Regions from separate parts of the Homo sapiens genome. Here region 2 is linked to region 1. A link means that fine-mapping ties the variant in region 1 to the expression of a gene that starts in the linked region. Tissue or cell type: ileum. Region 1 holds a variant in brackets; the other region holds the start of a gene. All regions are shown on one strand. Distances are from middle to middle.

Region 1 (8,175 bases):
CTCCTTCACCTGAGAAGCCAACATGTTTTTATGCCAAAATATGTTCCAGAGGTTTTGATCCCTTTTGGGTTTTCTCTTTTGAATATTTCTGCACTTAAGAGAAACCTAGTAAGTGTTATAACACGAATAATAATAGGATCTATAACAAATGATGAACAGTTATTGCCTCTACCTCAGGGAGGTAAAAGGGGAGGGCTTTTACTTCCTTAGCCATACATTTCCACACTTCTCATCCCCCTCCTGCTCGTTCCTCTTCTTTTTTCTGGATAGCATGTATAACTTTAAAAATCGAGGAGAGGGGGGAATTGAAAATTTGAAAAAAAAAAAAAAAACAGGGCAGAAATGATGGATTACTTAAGATGTGGGACTGGACAACTGGCTAACAATTTGGAAAAAAGTTAGATTTCTACCTTAAATCTAAATATACTGCAGATGGCTTAAAGATTTAAATGCTAGAAGGTAAACCATAAAAGAATCCGAATACTTACACAATTTTAGGATAGGGGACAACTTCCTAAGAAGACATCATATGAACAGACTGATAGATTTCATGACATAATAATGGGAGGCTTCTTTCTAACAAAACATAATAAAATAAGGTCAAACTGTGAAAAAAAAGACAAACAATATTTAACAGAGGATCAAGCATTTTAATATAGAAAAAGCTCTTACAAGAATTCCTGCCTCATAATTGTTTTCCCTAAGCCAAGAATGGGGGGGAATTTGACCACAGTGAAATCAGGGTTTCTAAGGGCAGGAGGAAGGTAGGAGGGGAGGGGCTGAACGGAGTTTTCAGGATGGGGGTGGACAGCTCAGGGGGACAGCTCCAGGGCCAGGGTTGGGTGACCTCCATGTGGCAGGGGTTCCCCACTCTCCCTGGCATTCACAGTCTTATCTGGTGCCAGTCACTTCCCCAGCCAGCCTGACCTCCCTGCCTGGGACATTTAACATTTTGCCATCTTCCTCACACATCAGGCATTTCCCTGTTTCCATGACTTTTGCAAATGCTGGTCCTTCTGCTTGGCTCACTCTCTTTCATCTCTACCTGAAAAAAAATCCAACTGCTCCTTCAAGGCTCAGCTCAAATATCCCCTGTTCTGCAAAACTGTCTTTAATCCATCTGCCCCCACTGCCCCCAAGGAACTCCCCTTGGGCTCCTATGGCAACTGCCCATCAGTCTATTCAGCACTTACTATACAGCATTGTCATTTTCTGCTCACTGGCTCACTCTAGACAGGGAGCTCCAGGGACCCCTTTCCCCTTCTCCAGGTCCGGCAAAGAGCAAGTGCTCAATTAATATTTCATGAACAAATGCATCGTACTGTGAGTGACAGAGCAGGGCAACTGAACTGACACTAGTTGAGCTTCAGGTTCAGTCCATTTCTTTTATATTTTTTGAGACAGGGTCTTGCTCAGTCACTCAGACTGGAGTGCAGTGGCATGATCATGGCTCACTACAGCCTTGAACTCCCGGGCTCAAGCAATCTTATCACCTCAGCCCCCTAAGTAGCTGAGACTACAGGTATGTGCCATTGTGCCCGGCTAATTTTTTATTTTTTGTAGAGATGGGGCCTTGCTATGTTATTAAGGCTGGTCTCAAGCTCCTGGCCTCAAGAGGTCCTCCTGCCTGAGCCTCCCAAAGTGCTGGGATTATAGGCATGAGCCATTGTGCATGACTGATTTATTTCCTAAAACAGCATGCTTTTATTTAAAATAAGGGCAAGTTATTTAACTATGATGCAATTAAGAGAAATAATTATGTATAATTCAATTATGATGCAATAATTTATCATAACTGCATCATAGTTAAAAGATGCCAAGTTACTGTAAGATCAGAAGACCTACGCTAAGGCACAGTGGTACGTGAATGCACTTGAACTATTGAAAGCCGCTGTCAGACTCCACAATGGCTTTCATTTTTATTTATTTATTTATTTATTTATTTATTTTATTTATTTTTTATTTTTATTTTTGAGACAGAGTCTCGCTCTGTCGCTCAGGCTGGATGGAGTGCAGTGGCGCGATCTCGACTCACTGCAAGCTCCGCCTCCCGGGTTCACGCCATTCTCCTACCTCAGCCTCCCGAGTAGCTGGGACTACAGGCGCCCGCCACCACGCCCGGCTAATTTTTTGTATTTTTAGTAGAAACGGGGTTTTACCGTGTTAGCCAGGATGGCCTCAATCTCCTGACCTCGTGATCCGCCCGCCTCAGCCTCCCAAAGTGCTGGGATTACAGGCGTGAGCCACCGCGCCCGGCCCATTTTTAAAACATTTATAAACAAAAGAGGTTTAATTGACTCATAGTTCTGCATGACTGAGCAGGCCTTAGAATCATGGTGGAAGGCAAGGAGAAGCAAGGCACATCTTACATGAGGGCAGGAGGTGGCGGGGCAGAGAGAGAGAGCGCGCCTCAATGGCTTTCAATAGTTCAAGTGCATTCACACCAGGCGCATTCCTGCGCTTGAGATTCCTAGCATCAGCCAGGAGCGGCTTAGTGGGAGAAAGAGCTGCGACGGTGATGATAGTGACATTCCAAAGTTTTGTGGCAACATGAAGGAGGAGGTGTGTCTGCGCTTGCACAGTGACTGCAGCCCTTGGGCAGATGTGGAGAATGTGTGAGGCTAAAGGCTCCCACGCAGCATGGGGCATGGGGAGCCTGAATGTAAGCCCCAGGGCAGGAAGTTTTGCCTATTTGCTCACCGTGTAATCTCCAGCATCTAGAATAGCATAGTAGGCCTTTGGTAAATATCTGTTGAATGGAAGGACTAAAATTAGTTCTGGAAGTGTCTGGGGATGGGGCTTAAGTTACCTCTGCAGGGTCTCCAAGGCTAAATCCTTTTCCTGAGTTAGAAAAACAGGGCTGTTCTCACTGAAGTTTTGGCCTTCAGAGTGTGATGAGGAGTGCAAAGGGGCACGGGGCAGCTTCAAGGACAGGGCTGGGACCACAGAGGGTGAGAAAAGGGCACAAGGGAGGAGGGGTGCTCCCAAGATGGCAGCCCCTAGAGATCTGGGCTGGGTCTTGCTTTCCTCCCTGGGGCCAGTGCAGCAGGAGAGGGTGCTGGGTAGGGGTGCTGGGGGCTGAGAGGACCAACCCAGCTTCACCAGGCCCAGAAGAGAAGATGCACACAGGGAGAAGGCAGCTGTATGCAGTGGGCTCAATAAAGAGGATTTGGGCTGGGCGTGGTGAGTCATGCCTATAATCTCAGTGCTTTGGGAGGCCAAGTGGGGAGGATGGCTTGAGGCCAGGAATTCCAGACCAACCTGGGCAACACAGCAAGACCCCATCTCTATGATACATTTAAAAAAAAATTAGCCAGGTGAGTGGTGCACACCTGTAGTTCTAGTTACTTGGGAGGCTCAGGTGAGGGGATCAGTTGAGCCCAGGAGTTCAAGGTTGGTTACGGCAAGCACTCCAGCCTGGGTGATGGAATGAGAAATGAAACCCTGTCTCTAAATAAATAAATAAATAAAAAGATTTGCCTCTGTATAACAGGAGTTTGAATTTAGGGCTCAAAAAGTCAAGTACATTCTCAAAATCACTCAGAGAGTGACAAAATCAGGATTCAATTTCACATCTTTCTAATTCCAGAGCCTGACTTTTTTTCACTCCGCTAAAAAAAGTGACGTCACAGGCACATGGCAGGCATGGAGCCCCAGGCGAGCCAGGTCTCAGTCTGGGTCAGTGTAGCCCCAGGGCTGGGATCAGAACCACAGTCGTTCTGGAGACAGGGCCAAACTAGGGTTAGAGGTCAGGGAGGCCAGGCCTGAGAACAACAGGCTTTCCGGGCTTTGTGCC[C/A]CCAGCCAGACACAGTGTCCTGGGATTGGTGGCAGGGCCTGCTGGAGCCCCCAGCTCCCTCTTTCCACCCCCCATCTAGGGCCTGGCCTGACCTTCCTCCCCAGGGCAAGGAACTGGCCTGGCTCTTATCCTGGAGGAGGCTGCAGCTGCTCCTGCAGCCCTGGTCCCAGCAGACAAAGGCGCTTTCTTTCCTAGTACAAGGTCTTGATTGCATGTTGCCCTGGATCCAAAAGTTCCTATGGAGGAAGCAGTTTCCTCCCAGGGTGTGTGTGTGTGTGTGTGTGTGTGTGTGCACGCACGTGTGTGCTGGGTTTCAGGGAGTTGGGCTGTCAGGGAGTGCAAGCCCTCTCCCAGCCTCCTGGGTTTAGCCTGGCATTGCTCAATCTGCATCCTTTGTGTACATCTCTAAGTGTCTATGCATGTGTGTGTACGTGGTGGTGTGTGATTGTATGTATGAGCATGTTTGTGCATGTCCCTGCAGCTGCAGGTGCGACTGCCTAGTATGTACCTGTGCATATTTCTGTACACATCAGCACATGCTTATACACAGTCGCAAGCCTACGTATCTGTGTAACTTGTGTCTGTGCCCACATGCGTTTGGGGGTGTATGCATATGTTTCATGTGTGTGTCTACATGAGACACCTGGTACCAGGTCCCTAACTCTGCTGCCTCTGGCTGTGCCTCCCCACACCCTCTGCTGCTGTGTGGGGGCTCTGCAGTATGCAAGTCCTCCTAAAATAGCCCCCTTTCTTCTTCCCAACCCCCGGCCCCGCCTCTGCATTTGTCTGGGAACAACCTGGCCTCTTTCAGCTCTGGGAGGAAGACAGGTTTGTACAGCTTGGCTTGGCCCATACACTTTCCAAAACTCTCTGGCTCCCAGCCAAACTCTTTATAAAAAGGCTCATGGGGAATAGCCTAACAGGAAGGTGGGAACTCTGCCTGGGGGGCTCAGGAACCCTGCTCCAAGCCCCAAGATTAAATGGGAGCATCAGTCAGCTGAACTTCAGCCAGAGACGGCCCTGCAGCCTGAAGGTGAACTTGGTCAATGGACCCTTCACCCCCAAAGATGGGGACACAGCATCTCAAGGTCTCATGTCCAGGGTGGCAGAGCTCGGAGGGGTCCCAGGGCTCAGGCAGCTCAACTCCCCATGGGCACACTGGAGGGAGAGGCCCAGAGTGATGCCCCAGACCAGGCAGGAGCTGAGCCACTTCCTAGCATCCTGCAGCCCCAGGCCCTGGTGACCCTGCCATGGATAACCCTGGGTCTGCCTCTTCTGCAGGGAGGTGGGTGCCACTGCCAGACTTCAGAGTAGCAGGCTCTGAGCCTGGCTGGCCCTTTTGCTCAAGGCCTCCTGAGTCCATATCACAAAGTCAGTGTTTGAGCACAGGGTTGGTTTACCCAGCACTTGCCTTACTTGGGGTGCAGGGGACCTCAAGCTGTTTCTCCTAGTCCCACTGAGGCACAAGAGAGGGGCTTTCTGTACTGCTATCTCCCCTACTGGGGCTCAACCCAGTCTTTTTTTTTTCTTTGAGACTGAGTCTCACTCTATTGCCCAGGCTGGAGTGCAGTGGTGCAATCTTGGCTCACTGGAACCTCCGCCTCCCGCGTTCAAGTGATTCTCCTGCCTCAGCCTCCTGAGTAGCTGGGATTACAGGCACGCACCACCATGCCTGGCTAATTTTTGTATTTTTAGTGGAGACGGGGTTTCACCATGTTGGCCAGGCTGGTCCCGAACTCCTAATCTCAAGCGATCCACCCAACTCGGCCTCCCAAAGTGTTGGAATCACAGGTGTGTGCCACCGTACCTGGCCTCCACTGGGTCTTAAGGGTGCCCTAGGGTGAAGATGGGAGGGCAGTCCAATGGGTAAGACCCTATCTCAAGTGGATGCTCAGGGCACAGGTGGCACCCCCCTCACTGGTCTGTCACAGGAGACACAGGGGCTGCTGCTGGAGATGCCACAGCCGTGTGGGAGGGGCAGGCTGGTGGGGCAACTGAGGAAGAGGATCCCAGAAGCCTGGGTTCAGACATGGCTCCAGGGGGCTCCTGGGTGCTGGAAACAGACGAGACACCCTCAAAGAGGCTGGTTCCTTCAGTCCATCCCCACTGACCGCTGCCAACCACCCCTTTCCTCTTCCCTTCAGAAACCTTTTTCCAGGCGGGAGGGATGGTAGCTGGGAAGCTTTGCTCTTATCTGGCATGTGCCCAGGCCAGGCACCGAAACTCAAAAGCCAAGCAGAGAATCTTTTTTTGTCTGCTTCCGATTGTCGTACCTTGTCCCTGAGAGACACTCATGGACCAGCCCAGCTTGAAAAGGAGCCAGAGAACACAAGAAACAACCAGTAACTCCAAAGAAAGGTCAGGGTTTCAAGAACATTGTGCCCCCCCGGTTGACTGTGCAGAGCAAGTACCTCTTTGGATGGAGGTTTTATTTCTTTGAACTCTTGTTCCTTACAGAGGCTGGGAGTGGTTGGGCCCACAGGGTGGGGGTGGTGGACTCCTTGTCCTTGGGCCTGTTTTGGGGATGCTGGGTTGCGCACTGGGAGTGGAGTTGGTGGGGGCTCTGAATTCTCCCACGCTCAGTCTAGGGATGGGAGCTGCCTCTTTCTTCCCTCATGGGATGCTAATTATCCTCAACTTGTCTGGGAGAAGAAAGGAAGTAGCTGCAGGGGCTTAGCCAGGAGGAACACCTGCTCCCCTGCCCCACCGCCCTCCAGCTCTCCCTCCCTCCCTCCTTCCCTCTCTCTCAGATGCACACCAACACTAGGAGTATCCTTATATACGTATGTGCTGCTTCTTGACGGGGAAATTTGACAAGGGACTGGGGTGAGGGTAGGGGTGTCTTCTACCTGGGGAGGCCCAAGGGGCTGCGGCTGGGGCTTTCCTCAGCCTCATACAATCCACCGCCCCGCCCCCAACCCCTGCCCAAGGCACTCACGGTGCCTTGTGCCTCCGGGCTCTTTGCCGGTCTGGAAAGTCTGGGATCTGTGAATGGAAAAGCCTGGGTCAGAGCTGGAGTGGGGAGTGGGTGGGGGTTGGGAGCTGTGTCTACAGAGTTTAGAGTTTTCTTGGTCTGAGCCAGGAAAGAGTCTAAACACCCAGCAGTGCTGAGTCCTTGCCTGCCCTGTGCAGCGTGGACCTTCCTCGGCCCAGCTCTCCTGCCCTATGCAGGCTTTGGGAGTCCCTGAGGATTTTCAAAGAGCCCCAAGGCGCTGGGGACAGAGAAAGGTGAGGCCAGGTTGTCATCCTGAGGGGGAACAGGCACACACAGCCAGCAGGGGCCTGATGGTAGATGAGACCAGGGTGACGTGGCAAAGCTGCTTCAGTCTGGCCACAGCACTGCATCGACCTGGACTCTTGAGCCTCTCCTAGTGTCCTGCTTCTGAGAGCCAGCTGGACATCTCAGTGGGGAACAGGACAGTCACTCTCGAGGCAGGAGGATCGCTTGAGCCCAGGAGTTCGAGGCTACAGTGAGCTGTGATCACACCACTGCACTCCAGCCTGGGTGACAGAGGGAGATTTTGTCTCAAAAAAACAAAAACAAAAACAGACAAACAAAAAAGACTCAGTGTGAAGAGGGGAGGGGGACAGGGCAACTCCAGTGTTTCCTCCAAAGTGAAAGTATGCCCTCGGGTTTGGAGGCTGGCCCTCAAGAAGCATGCCCAAAGCCAAGGGCTTCTTGGAAGCATTTTATCTCAAAAGTAGACATGAATCTTATATTCCACTATGTGATTCATTTTTATACAAAACCATGTTGGAGTTAATATGAAATATATATATATATATATATATATGTATGTGTGTGTGTGTATTTTTTGAGATGGAGTCTCACTCTGTTGCCCAGGCTGGAGTGCAATGGTTCCATCTCGGCTCACTGCAACCTCTGCCTCCTGGGTTCAAGCAATTCTCCTGCTTCAGCCTTCCCAGTAGCTGGGATGACAGGCTCCTGCCACCACACCTGGCTAATTTTTGTATTTTTAGTAGAGATGGGCTTTTGCCATGTTGGCCAGGCTAGTCTCGAACTCCTCACCTCAGATGATCCGCCCGCCTTGGCCTCCCAAAGTGCTGGGATTACAGGCATGAGCCACTGTGCCTGGCCATATGAAATATTTTAAATGAGTTTTTGCATTGAATCTATGAATAAAATTGATGCTGCAGGATGGGGATCGACAAACTTTTTCTGCAAAGGATCAGACAGTATAATAAATATTTTCGACTTTGCAGGCTGTGTGGTCTCTGTGACCACTGCTGTCGTAGCCCAAAAGCAGCTTTGTATAGACAATACACAAAGGAATGAGTATAGCTGTGTTTAATAAAACTTTATTTATGGCCACTAGAATTTGGATTTGGGATCTTTTTTTTTTTTTTTTTTTTGGAGA
Region 2 (8,175 bases), 27 kb before region 1:
ATCAAGGCTCTGGTGCAGCCTCCGGCTGGCGGCCTGACCCTCCTCACATTGCCGCCGTACCTCCTGCACCCGCAGGTCACACTCACTCTGGACGCCTTGCAGCTTCTGCTCAAAGCCATCCAGCAGGCTCCCCCAGAGTCGGTGCAGCCGTCGGTCCACGTACTCCTCCAGCAGGGCCAGGGAGGTGAGCGGGGATGGTGGGGCTTCCCGCAGCCGCTGCAGGTGGGCCTCATGGCCAAGTGCCAGCCCATGCACCTTGTCTAGAAGCTGCACCTTGGTCTGAAGAGTGTTGCTCACCTCTGTCACCTTGCTTAGGATCTCGTCTAAGGGAGGTGTTAGTGGCCCTCTGGCTCTGTCTCCTGGGCCCACAAGCCCCTCAGGGATGACCCCAAAGCCCACAGGGACAGCAGGAGCCCTGGGGCCACCAGTCATCCTGTTGGGATCCTCGTGGCTAGCCACCAGGCCACTGAGGGTACCATATGTTTGAGCCAGGCGCTGGACATCACCCTCCAGGCGTTCCAGCCGCTCACCAAACAGCCCTGGGCCTTTCCTTCCTGGGAAAGAGAAGAGAGCCCCAGGGGCATCACTGGCCTCACCCTCTCAGCTTGTCACAATGCCAGGCCACCCAAGAGACTTTCTGTTCTTTTTTTTTTTTTTTGAGACAGAGTCTTGCTCAGTCGCCCAGGCTGGAGTGCAGTGGTGTGCTCTTGGCTCACTGCAAGCTCCGCCTTCCGGGTTCATGCCATTCTCCTGCCTCAGCCTCCCAAGCAGCTGGGACTACAGGCACCCACCACCACGCCCGGCTATTTTTTTTCTATCTTTAGTAGAGATGGGGTTTCACGATGTTAGCCAGGATGGTCTCGATCTCCTAACCTCGTGATCCACCCGCCTCGGCCTCCCAAAGTGCTGGGATTACAGGCATGAGCCACCGCGCCCAGCCCAGACTTTCTGTTCTAAGCCTACCTTCTCACTGGGCATAACTCCCTCAGCTTTATGGTGGGGTGAAAGTGGGGCTTGGGGCTTGCCCCTCCCCATCCATGCCGGAGCTCAGCCAGCCTGGGATCAGTCCCCTCCCTGCCCCTGCCACTGAGCCCAAGAAACCCAATCACCTTGGAGGGTCTCCTTGGGCAGACTCACCATGAGGGCTGGGGGCTGCTCTGCTGTAGGAAGGGGGCCTGGGGCCTGGGTCCAGCTGCCCTGAAGGAATCTGAGGCTCAGGCTCCAGCTGGGGTGAGGCAGCCCCATGGTCCGTGAGGTGCTCAGGGCAGCGTTTCCCAGTGAAGCCGGGACAGCAACGCCAGGCGAGGTCTGTCACTGTCTTGTAGCCAACCTTGTATTTGGGTCTGAGTACTGTGCGGTACCTGGGCCAGGGAGGGCAAGAGAGTGGGATCCTGCACCTGAGGGCTGTGCTTCTCCCCCTAGCTGGCACTCAGGGCCGCCCTCAGACACTTGCATAAGGCTGGGTATCTCCCCACCTCCATAGCACCCCCAGGGCTGTACTTTTTCTGTGCTTAAGGTGACAGGGGTGGGTAAGGGCAGGCCTTCCTGAAGCTCACAGTCATGTTAGGGAAGGATGCAGGTAGAAGTCCCACCCATCCTGGTAGCTTGGAGAGAAGCAGGAATTTTGCCCCATCCCTCCCAAGACCACTTGGACCCCCTCTAGCTCAGGCTGCCATGAGAAATTCCACTCAGGCTGCAGTAGCACCTGGGAGAATCAGACACAGCCCCAGCCCTCCCTGTGGGCAGGGAGGGGCACTGCCCTGGAGCTGGCGCTGGCAGCCCCCTCACTGCCCTGGGGGCCACTCTTGGCTCCTACCTGCTCCCCTTAGTTCTTTCCACTCCTCTCTAGCCTGCTCCGGGACCTCGGCTCTGGTCAGAGAGGCAGATGGACGGGTACCTCTGATTGTGAGCAGGGAAGGGAAGGTCCAGGGTACAGGCAGGCTCGCGAGGGTCCATGCCCTCACTGTTCAGCCACGTACCTGTTCACCCACTGACACACCGGAGACAACAGGTTTGTTTCCACACACACACGTGAACCTCTCCAGGTACAGAGCTGTGCATCCCATGTGCGTGCAGCCCTGCTGCTCCGGCTTCCTCTCCCTGCCCCATGGCCTGCCTCCTTGTGGTCACCACAGTCCTCCCTGGGCCTGCCAGGCCCCCCTGTGGCATCACCCGTTGCCTAAGGGGCCCTCTGCTCCCTCCTCTCCCCTCACCTTCTGCCTCTGTCACTTCCTCCTAGCCTTGTGCTGCCTCTGCCCCCAGAACCTTCCCCTTGTCCCTCTGTGGTTCCTGGGCTCCAACCCAAGCCTGCCCCTGTCTGTGCGGGTGATGCTCTGCTGCAAGCCCAAATCCCTGGGGTCCTCCTTGGCACCCTCTTTTCTGGGGCCGCCTTCTACTCTGGCCTGTATGGGGGCTCAGGTGGGCTCTCTGGAGTCCAAGAAGCCCCTTGTGGAGTTGGCAGCTGCTCTCAGCTGAAGGCAGGACTGGCGCTTGTGCCAGGGGATTCCAAGTGTGTAGGTGAGGAGTGCACTTACGTGACTGTCCCGGGGCACTTGGGCCCCCATCTACACTGCCGGTATTCAGCCTTTACGTAGCTCTCCGCTCCCTCCTGTAGGATGCAGGTCACATTCCTGTGCACCACATAGGCACAGAGGGCCCTACAGGAGAAAATGGCACCCCTGGAATATCTGGCTGAGCGAGGCCCACAGAGGCGCCTACCCTCCCACCTCCATCTGTGGGCCTCAGCAGGACTCCAAACTCCCATGTCTCTTCTGTCTGTTCTCTGTGTCCCTGGGAGCCAACGCCCTTGGTCTGGGGTCCAGCCCCGCTGCTGGTCTCTGATTCCAGCCTCCGTGATGGGTGGCCCCTGGGCTAAGCACTATTTGGAACCAGGAGCCTGATGTGGCTGCCCCTCCCTGCGTGGGGAAGAGGCCAGCCCGGATTCTCCCTCAAGTGCCCTGCCACACCCCCCCATCCTTCGCTGATTCCAAACTCCTTATCTTGGCATTTAAGGCTTCCGAGTCCCCACTCAGTGACTCCTTTGAGAGCACCATGTCTTGTCCTTCCTCCCTGCCTGGCTCCCGGGGAAATCCACCTCTCCTCGTAGTTTTGCAGCCCCTGCCTTTGGTCCTGTTCCCTTACTCTCAGAGCAGTTCTTGTACCACCTCCTCCAGGAGGCTCGCTGTGATGTACCCAGGCCCACTGAGTGTCGGTACTCTTCCTCCTACAACAGCTCTCAAATTCAGCTAGAATTCAAGTTCAGCCAGCACCCCAGGCAGAGCCTCCAGCCCACTTAACTGAGGCCAGTTCGCAAGCCACTGCCCACGAAACACCAGAAGCTGAGGCGGGGAAAGCAGGCTCCTTGATGAGCCACAAGGGCTGAGGAGGTGGCTGCCTGGCATAAGCCGACCGCTGTGGACGGCTGTGCCACAGCACAGGCCCGGAGCCAGGAGCCCGCTCTGGCTCTGCAGCCCGGCCACGCTGGGGCTCCCATGGGGTTGCTGGGGCCAGGCTGACTGCGAGAGGGCAGCGGCCGCCCGGATGCGCAGCTCTATCTCCTACCTGGCCGGGCCAGGGGAGAGAAGGGAGGCCCGGGGCGGGGGAGCCCCGCGTGCTCAGCGCGCGGACCGCCTTTCCTCCTCTCCCTCCACCTGGTCCGCTCGCCCGGAGTCTGCACACAGCGCAGCTGGAAAATGTTACTTCGCTGGAAAGGTTTCCGCTGGCACTGCCAGGATCCCAAGCCGCCGCGCCAGGCCCCCTCGGTTCCTTTTTCCTCGCCAGCCCCGCAACCTCCCGGAGCGTAGGGCGCTCGCCTGGGCAGGGGCTCGGCCCCGGGCGCCGCCCCCTCTGTGCAGCGGCCTCGGGGTGCCCGGGGCCTCGACGCCCCCCGCGGGTGCGGGCAGGTGGGAGCGGCGACGCGCGCGGGCCCATCCCTCCCTCTTCCCGCCCGCCGCCCGCCCGCGCTTACTTGTGCGGCCCCGGGCGCAGCCGCGGGCGCCATCCCGTCGTGTAGAGACTGTAGCGGGAGGCACCGGGCGGCGCAGGCCGCGCCAGGAGCGGGGTGCCCCTGGCCTGCGCCCCCGAGAGCAGCGCCGCGACGGCGCACAGCCAGACGAGCAGGCGGCGGCGGCCCATAGCGGCCCCCGCGCCTCTGCCCGGCCCCGCGCGGTGCCCCCCGCCGGGTGTCCGCCTGCAGCGCCGCGCCGCCCCCGCCGCTGGTCGGCCCGGGTCCCGCCCCGAGGGTCCCGGGGTCCCCTTCGGCCCCCGAGCTCGCTGGCCCGGCCGCCTGGCGCTTCGCGGCGGCTGCGTCCCGCGGAGTGGCCGGCGCTGCTAGCGGCTGGGGCCGCGGAGGGGAGGCGGGAGGCGGGCTCTTTGCGGATTAGCATAAACTTGGGGCCGCGCCGCTCGCCGCCGCCAGCCCCTCGCCCCAGCTCCGAGCGGACGGCCGAGGAGCCGCCTGCGAACAGGAGGTTCCAAAGGGAGCAGCCCCAGGTGGCAGGGGCGCAGGCCGCCGCGCCCTGGGAGGCCCCCCGAGCACACCAGCCACTCTGTCGCCTGCGGGCACGGGGCGAGACGCAGAGAAGCGGACCCCTGAGGCCAGCCTGGGCGTGGACTTTCCAGGAGTCGTCCACCCTCAGGATACGCTTGTCTTCAGAGTCCGTGTGAACCCGGGAACTGCTCTCCAGGGCTCTGGAGCCGAGATGGCCGTGACTGGGGGCACAGCAGCACCACCTCCCCCGCCACCTCTTTGGAATAGACCCCAGATCATCCCCGTTTGCTCGCTCTGCCTCCTGGCCCCATCATTGCCCGGGAACCTTAGTTTGATAACTCCGCTGACCTCTCCCCAGGCATCCCACCTCCCCCTTACCCCGCAACCTCTGCCACGTAGCCTGGTGGCCCGGTTGCACCTCTGGTTCTCTGGAGGCGCCTGTGTTGCCTCTCTGTCTTAGGTATGGGTTGCACCGAGCCCGAAAGGCCTATCACCGCCCCAGCCCAGCCAAAAGTGCTGTGCTTTTCGTGCAACTGAAGCTCTAAGCCGGCTGGTCAGAGAAAATCCTCAGGTCTTTCTCACAAGGCACTGCCGCGGTGAAGCCAGGCGTCGTCCACATTTTGCTTGTGAAGTTGACTCTTGGAACCCAAGAGTTGGGTTTTATCGTCGTCCTCATTCAGTATCACCTTGCTAACTCTCTAACCTGCACAGAGTCCTTCTGATTCTGTCATCAGAGCGGTACTTTCCTGGCCTTGTCTCATCCACACCGGTGGCTACAGCCGTCTGTGTCTTTGCCCCAGGAGCTGATAGGTGTACAGAACTCTGGGGCTTGCTTGGAGAGACCTCCCTCCAAATTGACCTTGAGATATGAATTAATGCCTTTTGGATAGGGTGATGGTTATCAAGGATACTGGAAGGGGCAGCTCCGAAACCCACATCTATTTCCTGCCCTTAGCTTTAGTGGCTTTTGGGTTCTGTGGGGCGGACATCTGACCCCAGCTAGGCCCATCCTGCTTTCCCCCAGGCTTTGGAATCAGAACACAGAAGCTGAAGGAATCCAGCTTCCAGGTGTAGGTTGTGTGAGTTTCTCAGGGCTGTGGTAACAGCCACAGACTCAGTGGCTTAACACACAGAAATGTATTCTTGCACATTTCTGGAGGCTAACTCCAAAATCCATGGGCCAGCAGGGCAATGCCCCCTCCAGTGGCTCTGGGGAGAAGCCTTCCTTGCCTCTTCCAGCCACTGGTGGTTCCTGGCAATCTCTGGCGTTCTTTGGTCAAGGATTCTTTGTAGCAGCATCACTCCAGCCTCTACTTTCCCTCCGCATATCCCTCTTCAGGTGACCTTTTTTTCTCTGTGACTGTGATCTGTGTCCTTTCCTCTTCTTTCTGTTTTTGTTTTTTGAGCCAGAGTCTCGCTCTGTCGCCCAGGCTGGAGTGCAGTGGCGCGATCTCGGCTCACTGCAAGCTCTGCCTCCCGGGTTCACGCCATTCTCCTGCCTCAGCCTCCCGAGTGGCTGGGACTACAGGCGCCCGCCATAATGCCCAGCTAATTTTTTTGTATTTTTTTTTTTTTTTTAGTAGAGACGTGGTTTCACCGTGTTAGCCAGGATGGTCTCGATCTCCTGATCTCGTGATCCGTCCGCCTCGGCCTCCCAAAGTGCTAGGATTACAGGCGTGAGCCACCGCGCCCTGCCTTTCTGGTTGTGTTTTTAAATTTGAGACAGGGCTGGGCGCGATGGCTCATGCCTGTAATCCCAGCACTTTGGGAGGCCGAGGTGGGGGGATCACCTGAGGTCAGGAGTTTGAGACCAGCCTGGCCAATATGGTGAAACCCCATCTCTACTAAAAATAAAAAAATTAGCCGGGCGTGGTGGCGGGCGCCTGTAATCCCAGCTACCTGGGAGGCTGAGGCAAGAGAATCACTTGAACCCTGGAGGTGGAGGTTGCAATGAGCCGAGATCATGCCATTGCACTCCAGCCTGGGTGACAAGAGCGAAACTCCATCTCCATAAATAAATAAATAAATAGAGACAAGGTCTAGCTCCATCACCCAGGCTGGAATGCAGCGTCGACCTCCTGAGCTCAAGTGATCCTCCTGCCCCCACCTCCTCTGTAGCTGGGACCACAGTTGTGCACCACCATGCACAGCTCATTTTTAAAATTTCTGTAGAGATGGGCTCTCACTTTGTTGCCCAAGCTGGTCACAAACTCCTGAGCTCAAGTGATGCTCTCACCTCAGTCTCCCAAATTGCTAGGATTCTAGGCGTGAGCCACTGCACCCAGCCCAGCCTCCTCTTCTTATAAGGACACCAGTCATTGGATGTACAGCCCAACATAACCTCATCTCAAATGATTACGTCTACAAAGACCCTATTTCCAAATAAGGTCACATTCTGAGGTTCCAAATGTTCATGAATTTTGGGAGGGGCACAATTCAATCCACTACAGGGGCACTTGGCTGGTAATGATAGGAGAGACCACGAGAGCTCTGGGGGAATCATGGGAAAGGGAGAAAGAGTGTGGTCAGGGGAGAGAGGGGCAGAGTCAGGGGCTATGTGGTGAGTAACCATCTGGGGACAAGCTGTGACTTCCCTATCTGCTTCCAGTAGTCCACCATTGGAGCTAGCTTGAATGGGTTTCTGATCCCAGCAACCAAATGTGCTCTACAGAGAGAAACTTCTCTAGTCATGAACTGTAGAAATGATCCCTGAAAGTATAGTCTTACAGCAACCACATGGTCCCTAAGACAGCCTTTCACTCTCCCTATAAAAGCACCGAATGTGCTATTATATGCTCCAACCTCTAAGAGAGATGTTATGAACCATTTTGCTGAGGGCAAGATACACCATATCCCCAACAAGCTCTTGATCTTGTAACCACTGACTTTGCGCTTTTTAGGAAGTGAGAAACATCTGAGCCAGCTCCTCATCCTAGGCTGGGTGCTGACTGCCTGGCAGCATTGCCCAGCCTGGCTCTGGGAGGAACTCCCCCACCCCAGAGGCTGTGATCTTTTTCCAAGTGGTCCCACCCCTTCCTCTCACTCCCTTCCCCAGCCCCAGATGTGGGGCCCAAAACTCACAAGGAAGAGGCTGGACCCTGTTTGAGCTTGGAAATATCCACGTCATAGGGGCTAAAAGGATAGCTGGACCCCACTTCCCCCTTTCCCAGGTGGCTGACATCAAACACCATGCTCCCTCTTTCACTGCAACAGTTTTGGGATCCAGGATCTGGGCCCCATTCTAGTGGGGGTGGAGGACCTCAGTACAGGGAGATGCTCAGGGTCTTGGCTGGATCAGGCCAGAGCGGGGGTCCCCCCATAGACGATGAGGCCACTTTGCATCTGCCAGACAGGAAACCTAGGGAGGCCAGAAGCAGAGGAGGAAAGGAGGCAGTCATGTTCCTCTGACTCAGACTGGAGTTTCTACACCTGGATGGAAACGGGCCATACACGGGAGTGGGAGTGCAGTTTCAGTTCACAGGGACATGCACAACCACACCCAACCCATCCCCCATACCACTATCATGCATGTGCATGAGTTTTTCCTTTCGTACAGATGGGGTCTCACTATGCTGCCTAGGCTAGTCTCAGACTCCTGGCCTCAAGTGATCCTCCTGCTTTGGCCTCCCAAAGTATTGGGACTGCAGGGGTGAGCCCTATGCATCCTGCCTTTCTTTTCTGTTCTT

Evidence for each region. PIP is the estimated chance that this variant, and not a neighbour inherited with it, causes the effect.
Region 2: it holds the start of EMILIN3, and the variant in region 1 is fine-mapped to the expression of EMILIN3 in ileum (GTEx, PIP above 0.99). The same link has a PIP of 0.9 or more in esophagus muscle.

Annotation. Positions count from the first base shown.
Region 1 is chr20:41,389,315-41,397,489 of GRCh38, forward strand. No RefSeq gene overlaps it. Among named protein-coding and RNA genes, the nearest start is that of EMILIN3, 27 kb to the left of the region's middle. RefSeq lists an enhancer at 2,359-3,024. The variant C/A (reference allele first, on the strand shown) is at 3,797.
Region 2 is chr20:41,362,501-41,370,675 of GRCh38, forward strand. It overlaps EMILIN3 (elastin microfibril interfacer 3), which reads right to left and starts at 4,318. Exons shown (of 4, transcript NM_052846.2): 1 at 3,968-4,318; 2 at 2,535-2,657; 3 at 1,138-1,361; 4 at 1-554. The coding sequence starts at 4,134. It also overlaps the pseudogene LOC124904985. RefSeq lists an enhancer at 3,055-3,556.